2 separate regions of the Homo sapiens genome follow, and region 2 is linked to region 1. Evidence: fine-mapped expression QTL. Tissue or cell type: whole blood. Region 1 holds a variant in brackets; the other region holds the start of a gene. All regions are shown on one strand. Distances are between the middles of the regions.

Evidence for each region. PIP is the estimated chance that this variant, and not a neighbour inherited with it, causes the effect.
Region 2: it holds the start of IRF2BPL, and the variant in region 1 is fine-mapped to the expression of IRF2BPL in whole blood (TOPMed, PIP 0.99).

The regions. Positions count from the first base shown.
Region 1 is chr14:77,059,056-77,067,156 of GRCh38, forward strand. It overlaps LINC02288 (long intergenic non-protein coding RNA 2288), which reads left to right. Exons shown (of 4, transcript NR_110554.1): 2 at 483-673; 3 at 7,016-7,139; 4 at 8,054-8,101. Among named protein-coding and RNA genes, the nearest start is that of LINC02289, 13 kb to the right of the region's middle. The variant CCA/C (reference allele first, on the strand shown) is at 3,490.
Region 2 is chr14:77,024,164-77,032,264 of GRCh38, forward strand. IRF2BPL (interferon regulatory factor 2 binding protein like) reads right to left here and starts at 4,545. Exons shown (of 1, transcript NM_024496.4): 1 at 380-4,545. The coding sequence starts at 3,629. The coding sequence ends at 1,239. It overlaps LOC107984638 (a long non-coding RNA gene), which reads left to right and starts at 3,305. Exons shown (of 4, transcript NR_190002.1): 1 at 3,305-3,648; 2 at 5,125-5,317; 3 at 5,498-5,573; 4 at 5,664-7,409. It overlaps LOC105370579 (a long non-coding RNA gene), which reads right to left. Exons shown (of 2, transcript NR_169510.1): 2 at 7,396-8,101. RefSeq lists silencers at 1-109, 3,675-4,174, 4,295-4,504, 4,705-4,834 and an enhancer at 5,598-6,118.

The DNA.
Region 1 (8,101 bases):
CTTCCAGACTGGGCCCCCAATCTATCCTCCTGTCCAGCCTGCACAACGAACTCCCTGTTGCTCTCAGTTCAGGTCTTCTCGTGCCCTCTTTTGCCCTAGCCTGGTTGATCCATCACAGACCCCTCCTTGTCCTGGCTCCCTTATCTCCTGTCCTTTGCCCAATCTGATCCCTCCCCCTAAAGCCCCTGTCCCCTCCTCCCACACTCTTTTGGCTTGGAGCACACACCCTTGGGGGAGGTTTTAATACAGGTGCCCCCACTTGGGCTCCACTCCTGAGAAAGGAATTCTGACCTCCCTAGGAACCAGCAGATACAGAAGCAAAAACTTTAGGGATGGCTTTGGAGGCGTGTGAAAGGATGGAGAAGGCAGGGCTGTTCCAGAAACCTTCCACATAAAAGACTCTCCCATGGCTGCAAAGCCACCAGGCAGTTTGTTTCTGAGCCTTGCAGCTGTCTTGGCCATTTTCATTTTTATCTACTTAGGTTGGTCAGCGGGTCATGGCAAGCAGGAGACACAATGCTAATGACTCCGGCTCCACGTGGCGACCATTCAGGAAAAAGCTGCAATGTTCTCTCTGCCACATTAATCAGAGAAACACATCAAGAGTTGTTGCGTGGAGACAGCTTTCCTCCCAGTACTCGCCCTGCATACTAATCACCACCCCCTCCTGGCGGTGAGTCAGCTCCAAACCAGGCCGGTGGTGGTAAGGGAAGGCCAGAAACACCAGCTCCATCCACGTGGGGAGCAGCTGGAGGAGCGGGAGCCAGGCCCTCCACCGCCCAACATGCACTGTGTGTGACCATCATGGAGGCCTGGTAGGTGGGGATGGAGCACTCTGGGAAAGTTCATCCAAACCCAAATCTGGGCTACTTCCTTGTGTCTAGGTCTTGCCCAAGTCGACCAGAGGAAATGCTCCAGAAGCTGATCCCTAGACAGAGCCTTTGTTTTTTTGTTTTGTTTCGTTTTGTTTTGTTTTGAGACAGACCCTTGCTCTTTCGCCCAGGCTGGAGTGCAGTGGCGCGATCTCGGCTCACTGCAACTTCCGCCTCCTGCATTCATGCAATTCTCCTCCCTCAGCCTCCCAAGTAGCTGGGACTACAGGCATGCACCACCACGCCCAGCTAATTTTTGTATTTTTAGTAGAGACGGGGTTTCTCCATGTTGGCCAGGCTAGTCTCAAACTCCTCACCTCAGGTGATCCACCTGCCTCAGTCTCCCAAAATACTGGGCTTACAGGTGTGATCCACCGTTCCTGGCCCAGGGTCTTATTAAAATAAAGCAAGCGGGGCCTCCGTGCCAGGCACTTTGGTAACAATTAAGCCATCACCTTGGATAGTATTTCACATGTGGTAGGCAGAAAAGGAAGCCCTCTAGACAAATTAGCTCATTTAATCCTCGTACAACCCTATGAACTACTCACAGGTACTAGTAACATTACCATTTTGCAGACAAGAATGGTGACACGTGGAGAGATTAAGTAGCCAATTCAAGGTCACACAGCTAGTAATAACCAACTGGATTTGAACCCAGAGAATCTGGTTCCAGTAGCCATGCTCTCCTAGTGCTCAGGGTTGCCTGAGCTGATAGTGACCATAGGAAAGCCTCTGAATGTCTTTTGCATGTATTCACTCATTCACTCACTCATTCATTCATTCATACAGCAGTGATTTGTTGAGCATCTACTATGTACAAGGCGCCATACTAGGTACCAGGGAGACAAAGGTATGTAAAACAGACATAGGCTTAAGAGGGAGACTGACATCAATTTAACATTTTTATAAATTTATAGTAAATGCAAAATGTGATAAGTGACATGAAGGAGAAGTATTGGATCCCATGAAAGCACCTAGTACGAGAACCTCATCTGTTTGGTGAGGTCAAGGAAGGGTTCCCCGAGGAAGTGACAAATGAAGAAATAGCTTATACTGGTGGTTCTCATAATGTGGCCCCTGGCCTAGCAGCATAAGAATCACCAAGGAATCTGGTTTAAATTTTTTTTTTTTAGAGACAGGGTCTCACTTTGTTTTCCAGGTTGGAGTGCAGTGGTGCAAACATAGCTCACTGCAACCTCCTGGGCTCAAGTGATCCTCCCACCTCCCAAGTAGTTGGGACTACAGGTGCACACCACCACACCCAGCTAATTTTTTTTTTTTTTTTTTTTGGAACGAAGTTTCACTCTTGTTGCCCCAGGCTAGGGCACAATGGCATGATCTCGGCTCACTGCAACCTCTGCCTCCCGGGTTCAAGCAATTCTCCTGCCTCAGCCTCCTGAGTAGCTGGCACTACAGGCTCCAGCCACCACACCCGGCTAATTTTTGTATATTTAGTAGAGACGGGGTTTCACCATGTTGACCAGGCTGGTCTTGAACTTCTGACCTCAGGTGATCCACCCACCTCAGCCTCCCAAAGTGCTGGGATTACTGGTGTGAGCCACCACGCCTGGCCTAATTTTTTTATTTTTTGTAGAGACAGGTGTTGTCATGTTTTCCAGGCTGGTCTGAAACTCCTGGGCTCAAGCAATTCTCCTGCTTCAGCTTCCCAAAGTGCTGGGATTACAGGTGTGAGCCACTTCAGCAAAGAAATTTGTAAGAAAGGCAAACTGTCAGGCCCCACCCCAGACCCACTGAATTGGGAACTCTGCGGAAGAGGCCCAGAATCCGTGAATGAGCGTACCAGGGGCTTCCGATGCATGTTCGAGTTTCAGAACCACTGCTTGCAAGTCTTTGTGTAACAAAGGCCCCGAGGTGGGCAGGCGCAGGCACATTAGAGTACCCAAGGGGGGCCTGCAGGTGGGGCGGGAGTGGGGGTGGGGCTGGATGGTGGTTTACACTGGCCTTGCAGGCATGCTCAGCAGTTCAGCACGCATCATTTCCAGTCACCAGGAGGCCTGGCCAGAGGTTCCTCTGCCCTAAGAACCCTCAAGGAGTAGCAGGTCACCTGTGTGTCCAGGCTGGCCAAGTTACGTAAAAGCATGGAGATGACTATGACAAAGGCTTCTAGAGGCCCCTGGTCACCTGATCTTGACCATGTTTTGACTTCCAGGAAGCACTAGTCAGACAGTGAATTCTGTTGCTGTGAAAATGCCTTAGTCCTCAATGCCGAGAGAGGAACCCCAGAGGGAAACACCTCCTTATCCTCAAGAAGCCTTTGCAAAGGGCCTGTGGGTCCTGTTTCCCCTTGGATCGGTGCTAGCAAGGGACATTATCTGCTGAGCAGAGGGTTGCTAGAGGTGGCTTCTACCCTCCTCAGGAGGCAACCCTGAAACAGACACATTGCATTAAAGACCCTGCGCAGCAGAAGGCAGGTATCACCCGCTGAGAGAGCTGGTTGGGTGGAGTCAACGTGAGCTGCTGGAGCTGGGCTCATTGCACAGGAAGGACTGGCTGCTAGTTCTTTGGCTAAGCCTGAACAGGCTGGGTGTGGTCACACCTGCTTGCTGGACATGTTAGCCCAGAAATACATCAAAATTGGTGACAACCAAACAGCCCC[CCA/C]GACTCAGAGTCAAGTGGCATTTATGGGGTACCTACTATGTGCTAGACACTGTATGAGGCCCTTTCACAGGTGTTAGCTCTCTGGTAAAGCTCCCAAGTTTGCAGATCCCTTCTCCATCACCCTGTCTACAAGTGCAGATCAATCGTTAGTTCATGCTTGGTGCATCAGGACTCAGTGGCGAGCAGGACAGACATGGTATTTTCAGGGGCAACACAGCGGGGGAAAACAAAGAGATATACATGTGCCAGATAAGGAGCTATTGGTTGTTTTTAGGGCCAACTGTGAGGGTTCCCAGTGCTTTGTATCAAGAATGACTTTCTTTTTAAGGGTCTCTTGTAGAGAGAAAGAAATAAAGACAAACCACAGTTGGCTTGCGAGACTCACATTGGCTTTGCCCACAGTTACTGGTTTTTTTTTGTTTTTTTTTTTTTGTGAGACGGAGTCTCACTCTGTCACCCAGGCTGGAGTGCAGTGGCACCATCTCGGCTCACTGCAAGCTCCGCCTCCTGGGTTCACGCCGTTCTCCTGCCTCAGCCTCCCGAGTAGCTGGGACTACAGGCACCTGCCACTACGCCCGGCTAATTTTTTGTATTTTTAGTAGAGACAGAGTTTCATCGTGGTAGCCAGGATGGTCTCGATTTCCTGACCTCGTGATCCACCCGCCTCGGCCTCCCAAAGTGCTGGGATTACAGGCGTGAGCCACTGCACCCAGCCTGCTCACAGTTACTGTTAAACACCACAGTAGAACCTGCCAGTAGCTGAGCACACGCAGGGCGCCAGCCACTAGACAGCATGGTTATCCAGCCACTAGACAGCATGGTTATCCATCTCACTTCCTCCTCTTTCCAGCTGCCCCGCCTCTCCATGGGGTTTTTCACAAGACGATCAGAGACCCAGAGACCCAAAGGAAAGGGAGACAATGGGGATTGGAGGCCACGGGCTTTAGGGGAAGGTAGGGGGCAAAAAATAGAGCATATGCAAAGCCCTGTCCTTGTTACTTCCCTCCCCAATCTCCACCACCACCCAACTGGCATATGAACTTGTTCTTCTTGTATACAGCTCTGAGCAAAGCACCATATGGCAGTTTCATCAGGCCCACGGCCTGGTTTCCATCCAGCCCACTCTAATTTCCTTCCAGTCATGGATCTGCAGAATAACCCATCCTGTGGAAGGAGCTCAGAGGAAGAAAAAGATAACAATAACAGTAAAGATATACAGAGCACAAACCACAGCGGGGAGCTGTTCCAATTATGTGTATGTTTGACGCTTGCAACAGCTCTAGGAATATCGCTGTTAGCATCCCCATTTTATAGATGACAAAACTGGGAGACAGATGTTCCGAGACATTCTCAAGGTCACATGGCTAGTGATGACAGAGCTGGGATGGGAGCCATGTTAACCGTCAGACTTTGCTGATTCGCTGAATCTTGGCTAAAAGATGTTGGCAGGAAGGGCTGAGAGCTTAGAAGAAGGGGTCCTCCCGGTCTGGCTGGGACAGGGTGATGCCAGCAAAAAGGCCCCTAAATCCACAAGCAGGGGAGGGGCGGGGTCAAGGCCCGGCTGACCTGACTCCAGCAAGCAGGGTCTGAGCTCCATAAGTGGAGGTGTCAGGGAAGCATGCAGAGGACTGGGAAGCAAGGAAGACCCCTGGAAGCAGCCCCCGCAGAGGAGGGTCAGGGAGGGCTGGGGGGCCCCCAGGAGCCCCAGGAGCTTGTCCCTCTTTGGGCTTCCTTCCGTGGCTAGGTTCTCTGCTCACCAGGAGTAAAGGGTAAGCATCCTCTCTGAGCCTGCAGAGCAGCAAGCCTGCACTGAGGCATTGTAGGAATGAGTGGCCCCTGGGATGGAAGGACCTGGGTATGGGTCTCAGCTCCATATCTTTGGGTTGTGTGGCCAAATCACACCCCATCACTCCCATGTCTGTGAGCCTCATCTATAGGGCAGTTAAGGAATGTGAATGGGCTGAAGTATCAGGAAACCAGCTGGGATCCTATCTCAGAAGAGGTGTATAGTACATGATCGTGCCCCTAGCCCCCATTCTTCCTTCTAGAACAAGGAAGGAGAAAACAAAGGCTCCCCGGGCAGTGAAGGCTGGGCCCTTGGTAGGCTTGGCAACCATGCAATCTCTAGAATGGAAGGGCTCCTCCCTCAGAGCACAGCCCTGGAGAGTCACAGCTGTTGCCCTGGGTCTGGCAGGACGAGGGAGGCAGTGCCAGGCTAGATAGAGAGTTTGAGGGACTCTAGGTTGGCAGTGGGGACTGTCATGCCCTGGCTCCTTTAGGATTCACAGGCCAGAGTGGTGGCTGTAGCCTAGTCCTCACTGCCAGAGACCCCACACCACAGTGGAGCCTGCACCAGGCACAGAGGCAGGAGGCAGAGCCATGCTTGCCCCTTTCTGCCATCCCTAGGATGCTAGAGGTAGCATCCTCCCAGCATGCTGGCAGGTGCGAGAAGGAGCTTTACTTGATGTAGCGACACCCCTGCTTCCCCCTGAGCCTTTGGGTTCCTTCCCACTTATGTCCCCTGCTGCGGGTCCACATGAGGGGCTTCTCACCCCGAGGCTGCCTCTACAGTGTCCACTGGACAACCTGGCCACCGCAGCCCCAGACTCAGATCACAAGGCCAGGATGGGCCTAGGATGCTTTGACCCTTCCAGCACAGCAGGAGCCTTTTGATGTGGGTCCAGGCAATGTCCAGCTCTCCTGCCCAGGGCTCGTTCTTGGAGAGTAAATGGGAAGGAACTTTGGAGGGAGCTGCTCTCCGTAGGAGATGATAAAAAATGGGAATTTGGGAATTTGGGGAAGGATTTGACGGATAAGGGAGTTAGGTAACAGGCAAAGAAGAAAGGAGGGAAGTTTCTTTTTCTTTTTTTATTTTTACACAATTTTTTTTTCCCTCCCTGGGGAAAAAATGTGAGCACAGAGGTAAAGAGAGAAGAAAAGTGAGCCAGGCGCGGTGGCTCACACTTGTAATCCCGGCACTTTGGGAGGCCGAGGCGGGTGGATAACTTGAGGTCAGGCGTTCAAGACCAGCCTGGCCAACATGGTGAAACCCCATCTCTACTAAAAATACAAAAATTACCCGGGTGTATTGGTGCGTGCCTGTAATCCTAGCTACTCGGGAGGCAGAGGCAGGAGAATCGCTTGAACTCGGGAGGCAGAGGTTGGAGTGAGCTATCTTGCCACTGCATTCCAGCCTGGGTGACAGGTGACAAAGCAAGAATCTGTCTCAAAAAAAAAAAAAAAGAAAGAAAGAAAGAAAGAAAAGTGAAAAATTCCTTTTATTCCATTTCCGGCCAATATCACCGTTTTCCCCAATCATCCCAGACTTCTGGGCGTTTACATGCATAATACATGTATGTACCCAGGGGGATGATGTCAAGATCTTTGTTTTGCTTTGATTTTACATGAAGGGGATCATGCTGACCACATTGCTTTGCAACTTTTCCCCCATAACTGTATATTCTGGACATTTTCTCATGTCAACAAAAATAGGACTTCCTCTTTTTTTTTTTTCTTTCTTCTAGAGATGCGGTTTCACTCTGTTGCCCAGGCTAGAGTGCACTAATACAATCATAGCTTACTGCACCCTCAACCTCCTGGGCTCAAGCAATCCTCCTGCCTCAGCCTCATGAGTAGCTGGGACTACAGGTGAGCACCACCACACCTGGCTATCCTCATTTTTTGTTTTTAACCTCTACCTAATATTCCATGCGTGCCTGTAACACAGTTGATTCAACCACGCCCCTCTCACTCCCCCTCACTCAGGGTCCCAGCTCTAGAGGACATGGGTCAAAAGGTTTTCATGGTAAATGGTGCCTCTGCACAATTCCAGGGGATGCCATCCACACCCAGAATGCAGCAGCCCTGCCTGATGAAGAGATAAGGTGGCTCCAGTTTTTACCATACAAACAATTCTGCACCGAGCATGCTCACCCATGTCTCTTTGTGCACATGTGTGAGTGGTTCTCCAGGCATTGATGATTCAGGGTGGAGCTGGAGGGCAGAAGTGCATGCTTCCGACATTTCAGGGACCTTGCCATGGTGTGGGAGGGCAGCCTGGGGTTCCTAAGCCCCTTCAGCCTCTGCTGAACCAGGTTGCCTAGCATACATCCATCATGTGGCTGCCGGCTGGGCCGCTGCTTCCAGGAAATCAATTGCAAAAACCTGCGATTGTCAGTGGCTCACACACTGGAGGCCATCCAGGGAGTAGATTAAATTGTATGAAAAAATAGTACAGGGCTCAAGACCGCTCGTAATGGAGACCCCTCGGTGACCTTTCTGCAGAAGTTAAAAGAACACAGGCAGACATACTCTCACCCTTGCTCACCAACGTGCTAGCCCGCCTGCCAGGAGCATAGCCCCTCTGCCCTTGGAGGAGCCGCGCCTCATTAGCAGGAAGTGGGAGGCCTGGTCCAGGGCCCAGTCTGCCTGTGCATGGCAAGAAGGCCAGCAGGGGCACCTGCTTCCCTGCAGGGTGGACCCAAGTTGACCATCAGGCCTTAGATGCTTAAGGTCACTGAGCCCCCCTTCTCCATGCCAGCCCTCTTCTGCTTCCCATGCAGGCACCACTGTGGACCCCTGCTCTGCACCCCCAGGAGGAGTGGGACTGC
Region 2 (8,101 bases), 35 kb before region 1:
AGACTTTTTCGCCCACTTGTCAAGTCACCAGCTGCACTGGGTGTCAGCCTATGTTCACCGCCACAGGGCGAGGCACCAGAAAGCATTCTTGACAATGCCATTTGCAGCTGGGCCCGCATCCGGGGGAAAATAGAGATGCTGAAGAGTAAACCGAAATCGCTTAGTCAGCAACTGTCGCCTCCCCAAGAGGTGAATTTAAATAGCCTGGTACCGAGGGGGAGGGGCAGCAAGGCAGCACAGGGCCTTTCCCACAGGCCAGCTCCCAGGGCTTTCAAAAGCACTAGGATTTTCGTTCTATACTGGAGGTAGGGAGGGTGTCGCCTACGTCGGAGTTGCATGGCCTTAGCCCTAGAAAGACAAAATTGCTGACTCAGCGCAGTTAATATCAATTGAATTTATTACAAGTTACTAAGCTCCAAGGCACATTACAGTGTTCTGTTAACTACAGAAATGTATAAAGGACAAACAGAGCAGATTCTCCATGTCTAGCATTTCGCTCTACTGTTCAAAAGCATCCGTGCATCAATAAAGCAAAAACAAAACAACACGTGTAGATCCAACACATTCAGGTCAGTAGAAACAAACCAAAACATTTTCCCCTCACAAACTTGCAACAAAATACACCCCATCCCCCCCGACACCCCCTTACCATTTTGCAAACAAAACAGAAAAACAAAACAAAACAACAAAATAAAGTGAAGACTTCAACACTTGGGGCAGTTTAGAAGGAAGCTTTCACCATTTTATAGCATTTTTTTTTTTTTTTTTTTTTTTTTTTTTTTTTTTTAGGCAGCAACACTGGCCTTGGCAAAAAAAAAAAAAAAAAAAAAAAAGTCTTTTTCTTTTGTGTGTGTTTTTCCTTTCAGAGAGTGCATAACATTTACAAAAATACACACCAGCAGCAGTCGTTGCTAAGGGCTATTAATTCTGTACCTAGGCAAACATTCTGCCACCAAATAAATGCTAACGATATGATGCAAATGACCCAACCAATACTATACTGCTTAACACAAACCAGCTTATCCTTCAAATGAAGAAGTTACATACCTTTGTTTCAAAATATAGAAACATACGACGAAAATAATGTCTATACATAAGACTAACTTTTTGCAGTTTCGTTATATTCACAATTCTACACCTTGGGGGTGAGGGGAGGGAGGGTCGAGTTGGGTTGGGGGAGGGGCCCTCAGGATTGGAGAGGAGCTGGTCTAGGGCAAAGGAGGTGGCTGCCCAGTGGTTCAAGGGTCTCTCTCCTTTTTCACTTTAACATCCCCAGCTAAGATAGTCGCGATTTCGCCCTGCATGAAGGCCCAAGGTACATTCGACCCGACTAGGGGGCATTTCTCTCCGCTGGGGCAATACACCTCGCCGGTGGCCCCCTGGGCCTTGATACTCTCTCTAGAGCAAGGGAAGCAAAATTTGTGGCTGGGGACGGAAGGGCACTGAACGAAATGCGTATCCTCCAAACGTTCGTGGCAAATGGTGCAGCAGAGGGGTCCGCTGTTGGCCATGGGGGAATCCGGAATGTTTTGGGGGTGCACTTGGTCCATGCCCGGGTGGGCGCTAGGCGGCGGGGGCGCCACCTGTAAATTCAGGTCCCCGTTACGTGATGCCAAGCGGCGCTGCCCCGGCACGGAGGCCGGCGAGACTGGGCTGCTGCTGTTTCGCCGCGCCGACGCAGTGGTAGAGTGCACGGAACTGCCATCCTTGGGCGAGTGCGCTGTGCCCAGAGTATCTGCCACCGACATGAGAGCGGCCATAGGGGACGGACCGTTCTGGGGGGCTGACTCAGGTGGGGTGGTCCGGTTGGAATGGGGTCCCAGAGGTGGGGGCGGCGGAGGCGGACCCCCCGCCGCGTGCCCCGGCGCCGCGAAGCCCCCGGCGGACATGGTGAGCTTCAGCGCCTCGCTCTGGTTCGCCATCCACTGCTGCCTCTGCTGTTCCTCGCCCAGCTTCAGCGCGCCCTCGGCTGAGTCCGGGGGCTCCGGAGAGGCCTTTCTCTTGCGCAGGCTGGCGGCTGCGCCCCGGCCCGACGGCGCGGCGGGCGGCAAGGCCCCGGTCCCCGGGGGTGCGCTGGGGGCGCGGCTCAGACTCACCAGAGCAGTGGGCAGCATGGGACAGCTGGCGTCCAGGTAGGGCTGGGGCAGCATGTCGGCGCCGGGCACGCCCTCCTTGAAGAAGCGCACGGCTTCGGGGAGCAGGTCTCCAAGCAGGCGCCAGTCCCCGGAGCCGTGCTTCTTTTCGTACTCCAGGTACTTGAAACCCGAGGATAGGCCCCGGCCGAAGTCCTTCATGCAGTCCTGATACATCTGCTTGGCCACACCAGATGCACTGGAGTACACGTTGCCCGAGCCCGTGGGGTACTCAATGAACAGCTTCAATTCGTAGTCCATGCCGGGCTTGGAGACGGCGTCGAAGGCGAAAACGCGGCCCAGCAGCGAGTGGTCCTTCTTGAAGCGAACCTCGTAGGGCGTGCAGCCTGCCAGCGTGAGCAGCGTGTCGCGGACCATCTTGGGCTTGCTGGCCCACTCCTCGGCGCGGTTGCGCAGGCTCTCGCTCAGCTCGGCCAGGGCCTCGGCGTTGCGCTGCTTCTCCTTCAACTCGCGCTCCTGGTCTGTGCTCGACACCGAGCCGGGCCTCTTACCACCAGCACCCACGCCCACCTCTGCCACCGACGAAGAGGTCGAAGACGACGCGGAGGACGACGTGGCCGATACACCCGGGGTACCCCCGAGACAAGCGGGGCCCCCAGGAGCCCCTGGGGGAGCAGGCGTCGGGGGCCCACGGCTGCCCAGGGCGTGGGGAGGGGGTGGGGGGAGTACCGCAGCGCTGGCCGGGCCGTTAAGCAGCGTCTGCGGTAGCAGGTTGGGGGGCACGGTGAGCTGGGGGCCTCCGCCACCCCCCGGGTTGGGCAGCCCCGTAACCAGCCCACCGTGCGTTCCACGCCGAGACGCCACCGACGCCGCCGCTGAAGAAGAATTGGGGCTCTGACGGTTCAGCTCTGGGGGTCCCTCCTCTGGTGTTGGTTTGGGGAAGCCGTTTGGGCCCCCCAGGCCGTTGGGCAGTCGCGCGGTGTGGCTGCTGCTTCCCAGGCTCACCGGCGGTGGCGGGTACTCGAAGCGGCTGCGCTGTTCCACCGCAGCGGCGGCGGCGGCGGCGGCGGCGGCGGCAGCGCTTAGGCCGTAGCGCTCCAGGCCAGACGGGGCCGCCAGCACCGCAGGCTTGCTGGAACCATCAACGTGGTTGAGCTGTTGTTGCTGCTGCTGCTGCTGCTGCTGCTGCTGCTGTTGCTGCTGCTGCTGCTGCTGTTGCTGTTGCTGTTGCGCGGCGGCGGCGGCGGCCGCCGCTGCTGCCGCCGCCGCCGCCGCTTCCTTAGCCGACAGGGCCACTGTCTTGACCCCGACGGGCGGCGGCGGCCCGGGGGAGCGGCCGTCCTGGAAGCAGCCGTGCGCCCGCTTCAGCTGGCGCGCTGTCTCGATCACGAATTCGATGCGATCAGCGCCCTCGTAGTTGACGCAACCGCGGCATACGGGTTCCGAGAAGTCCCAGATCATGGCCCAGGGCATGCGGGGCAGGTCGCACAGGTAGCAAGATTGTCTCCGGGACGAGGACACCTGCGCCGCCGACATGATGCCTGCCCTGGGGAAGGTAGGCCCCCGCCCGGGCTGTCTCCGCGGCGCCTTCTCCTCCGGGAGGACTGGCCGGCTGGGGAGGGAGTCCGACTGCGGGGGAGGGAGGAGGGGGGGCGAGAAAGTTCTGCCCCAGGGGCTGGAGGGAACGCGAGTCTCCACCGCCGGCGCAGCGCCTCGCCGTGGGGGCTCCACCGCCCGGGCAGCGGACGGGTTCAGCCCTCTCTTCGCCCCCACCTCCTACTGCGGTTGACTCGTCGCGAGGGGAGCTCAGGCGCCTTCTTCCTGGTGCTGCAGACTTGGGCTGGAAGCTCCCGGCCCGAGGGGAGGGGGCGAGGGTGCCCGGTGGTGGCCGCCGTTGCCTCTTGGCCCCCTCCCCGGAGTGGCTGGTGCGTGGAAGCTCGAAAGGGGCTGTCTCTTCCTCTCCCCGGGGACCCCCCTACGAGCTGCGTCCTCTCCCCGACGGGCCCCCTGGGGCGAGGGCCAGAGGGTTCAGTGCCACCCGGTGCCCGGGTCCAATCTTGCTGAAGCCGCTGCTTCCCCGGAGGACCGGGGGAGGGGGTGGCAGCCGAGAAAGGACCTTCTCCCCTCCGCAGCGTCGGCCGTTCTGCTGGCGGCGACTGGGTTTGCACCCCGGAGGGAGCCGCCGCGGCCACTGCTTCCAGGACGCACGAGAGCAGAGGAGAGGAGTGCACGCACGCAGGCTCCCGCCGCCCCCAGGCCTGGCCGGCGCCCGGGCCGCCGCGGCTGGCGGCGCTCACGTTGGCTGCAGGGCGCTCGCGCGGCGCCTCGGCCCGGGTCGCATCCCTTCCCGCTCGTGCTCACGCTCGCCCGGAATGTGGGGTTGTGATTGTTACTCTACGTTCCGGAGGCGCGTCTCGGCGCTCCTGCTCCGGCTGCGGCTCGCGCTGTCCCCGGCTTGGCCGCGCGGGATGCCGCCCGGGCGGAGCGCTGACGTCACCGCCATGCTCTGCACCAGTTCTTCCCCCTCCCCTTTACACTTCCTCTGTGGAGCCCACTTGTTGCTCAGGCAAGGCGCATGCGCGGCAGGACGCCCAGATTCCTCCCAGCCGGCCCCTCCTCCGCGCCTCCGCCCTCCCCTCCCCCCTCGCCGTGTGTGTACAACAGCTGAGGCCCGGCGAGCTAATGCTGGAAGTCCAGAGCTGGGGGTGGAAATTAAACAGACGATGACCTTTCCTTTCCCTGCCGGGCATTCCCAAGTAAAAACGCATTTAAGAACCACTAGCGTCGTTTCCGATCCCTGCTCCCCACCCCACCCCCAAGCCTCGGCAGTGAATTTAAATGTCCTGTTTCAGGATTTTTCGCCGTGAATTTCGTATAAGGTATTAACCATTTCATCTGCGGTTGAACCTTATCCCCCCCGGCATGGATGTTAAATTCATCGCCACCACTGATGCCGAAGCACCTGCAAAATTAGCTGTTTTCCAATCTTCCAGAAATTGTCTTTTCTATTTGTTTTTGTGCCCTGATCTAGGAACCCGGGCTTCAACGATAGAGCTAAATGAATTCAGAGTGCGCTACCCTTCCCCCCAGCCGCACTTTAAAAATTTTGGCTGAACGTCTGAAGAAGATACGAGCACCCCGAGGCCTTTAAGGAAAACAGGCAACTGGCTGCGCACAGCTGCAGTTCAGGGCAGGGAGGGGGAGGGGCCGGAGAGGCCAAACAGGTGAGTGTTTTTTCTAGAGTTTGATTTTTAAAAGGTGGAGGCAGCATTTAATAATACTGATACATTTTTGTAAAGCACAGCCGCAGTTTTCAAAGTTCTTTCTCAGGCGCTGTGATCTCACTCCATGTTGCCCCAGAAGGCGGAACAAGGCCGTGATTTTTTTTTTTTTTTTTTTTTAAGACGGAGTCTTGCTCTGTCGCCCAGGCTGGAGTGCAAAATGGCGCGATCTCGGCTCACTGCAACCTCTGCCTCGCAGGTTCAAGCGATTCTTCCGCCTCAGCCTCCCAAGTAGCTGTGATTACCGGCACCCGCCATCAGGCCCAGCTAATTTTTTGTATTTTTGTAGAGACATGGTTTCACCATGTTAGCCAGCTGGTCTTGAACTCCTGACCTCAGGTGATCCTCCCGCCTCGGCCTTCCAAAGTGCTGGGATTACAAGCATGAACCACCACGCCCGGCCAAGGCCGTGATTTCTTCTGCCTTACAAGATCACTGCTCATCAGTATTGCTTATGGCACGATGGATATGTTGGTCATAGCTCTAGTTGGGGCATTTCTATTGATTATTCTAATTATTGGGTTTGCTTTTTTTTTTTTTTTTATTTCATGAAAACTGAGATAATCCCAGGGAAGGCTGGAGAAGGGAAAGCAATATAATGGGATTTCGGATTCTGAAGTGTGGCCCACCAGATTGAAATTTCCTCTCCATCACTAACTGGCTCTCCACCCTTAAGCTAGTTACCCACAAAATCTCTCTTTTCCATGGAAAAGAGAATGGAATGATAGCTCCCAGGTTGTTAGGGTTGTTTGAGATTTCAACTTCGGTTTTTTGTTTTTTTGAGATAGGATCTTGTTCTGTTGCCCAGGCTGGAGTGCAGTGGCACACTCGCGGCTGGCAGCAGCCTGACCTCCCAGGCTCAAGTAATCCTCCCACCTCAGCCTCCCTAGTAGCTGGGACTACAGGCATGTGCCATTACACCTGGCCAATTTTTTTGTATTTTTGGAAAGGGATGGGGTTTTGCCGTGTTGCCCAGGCTGGTCTCAAACTCCTGGGCCCAAGTGATGCACCCACCTTGGCCTCCCAAAGTGTTGGGATTACAGGCATGAGCCACCTCACCCGGCCTCAATTTGTTTCTTGTCATAAGAAGAGATAACGCTTACTTAGACTTGCCGTGGGACCTTAGTAAACTAGGTGGCTTTACTTGCATCACCCTTAATATTATCTACATTATTAAGGGGATATTATCTATAGTATTTTGTTGTTGTTTTGAGACAGAGTCCACTCTGTCACCCAGGCTGGAGTACAGTGACGCAATCTCAGCTCACTGCAACCTCCACCTCCCAGGTTCAAGCAATTCTCCTGCCTCAGTCTCCCAAGTACCTGGGGATACAGGCGCCCGCCACCACACCCAGCTCATTTTTGTATTTTTAGTAGAGACGGACTTTCACCATGTTGGCCAGGCTGGTCTCGAACTCCTGACCTCAGGTGATCCTCCCGCCTCAGCCTCCCAAAGTGCTGGGATTACAGGCATGACCCACCGTGACCGGCCTATTACAGTATTAAACCCTTAATATTATCTACAGGGTAGATTCTTTTACCTCCATTTTACAAACCAGGAAAGTAAAGAGGCTATATAACTTGCCTACAGCCATTAGTGATGGGGCTGGGATTTGAATCCAGTAAATCTGATTTGAGGTGTCTTTGACAAGCTCAGGCTTGCAGAGGTGGTTTGGGGTGCTCAAAATTCCCATCAGCCCCAGTTGATTTGGTGTTACATACAATCTTACGTAAGTACTATGCCAATACACCTTCATAACCAACCCCCAGCCTCCCCTTCCAAGCGCATTTGTACCACTGAGTTCTATATACAGAAGTTGTAGATCTGTCACTACCAGACTGTAACTTAAATACACCATACAGAATGGAGAGCAGTGTTGGACTCACAGTTAGTGTTAGTTATTATTAGTATTGATACTAGTGTTGGTACTATTGCTGGTTGACATGTGACAGTACTTAGTAAACTGCATAAATTGTGAGGATCACTATTATCACTCTTATTACTAGTAATTGCAATAAAGTTCAGTGGAAGCAACAAGAGATACTTACTTTTATTTTGACACTTGACTTCCAGAGCCTGTTCCCCTATCCAACCCTCCCCAGAGCCCCAATCTCCCACTCATTCTGGGGCCCCTGAGTGCAAAGGAAAGGCGAGTTTTTAAGGACAGAAGAGGAGGAGGAGCCCTAGGGAGCCCCTCTTTCATCTCAAAGCAGCCAGATTTCTGTTTTTGCAAAACAGTGAGCTCACTGTGCACTCTAGAGCAATAATAAACTTTCTCTGGCCTGCTGGCACTTTGCAGTGATTCCTCTGCAAAGAGTTGCTTGGGGAGCATTGCCTCACTCTCCCAGACTTCAGCCCTCCCCACACTACCGCTACCCTGGAGTGAGTCAAAACATAGGGGTGGGAAATGGTTTGACATCCCCGCCAGCCTGGGGCTCCTTAGCTTTGGCTCGGTTGGGTGACCCATTTCTTTACATTAATATTTATTCAGCCCTTCCCTTTATTAAACCAAAAATATTAGGGAAATAGCAACTTAGCCACAACCCTCCAGCCAGGCTGCTAGAGAAAGCAAGTTGGATTCTATGTCATGGTGTTATGTTTGGTATGCACACACATATGTCTCCATCTCCCTGTCTGTCTCTGTCTTCACTGTTACTAAAGGAGATATATATACACACATACATGCTGGGGTGCCTTCAGACACACTGAGTTAGAAATCAACGTGT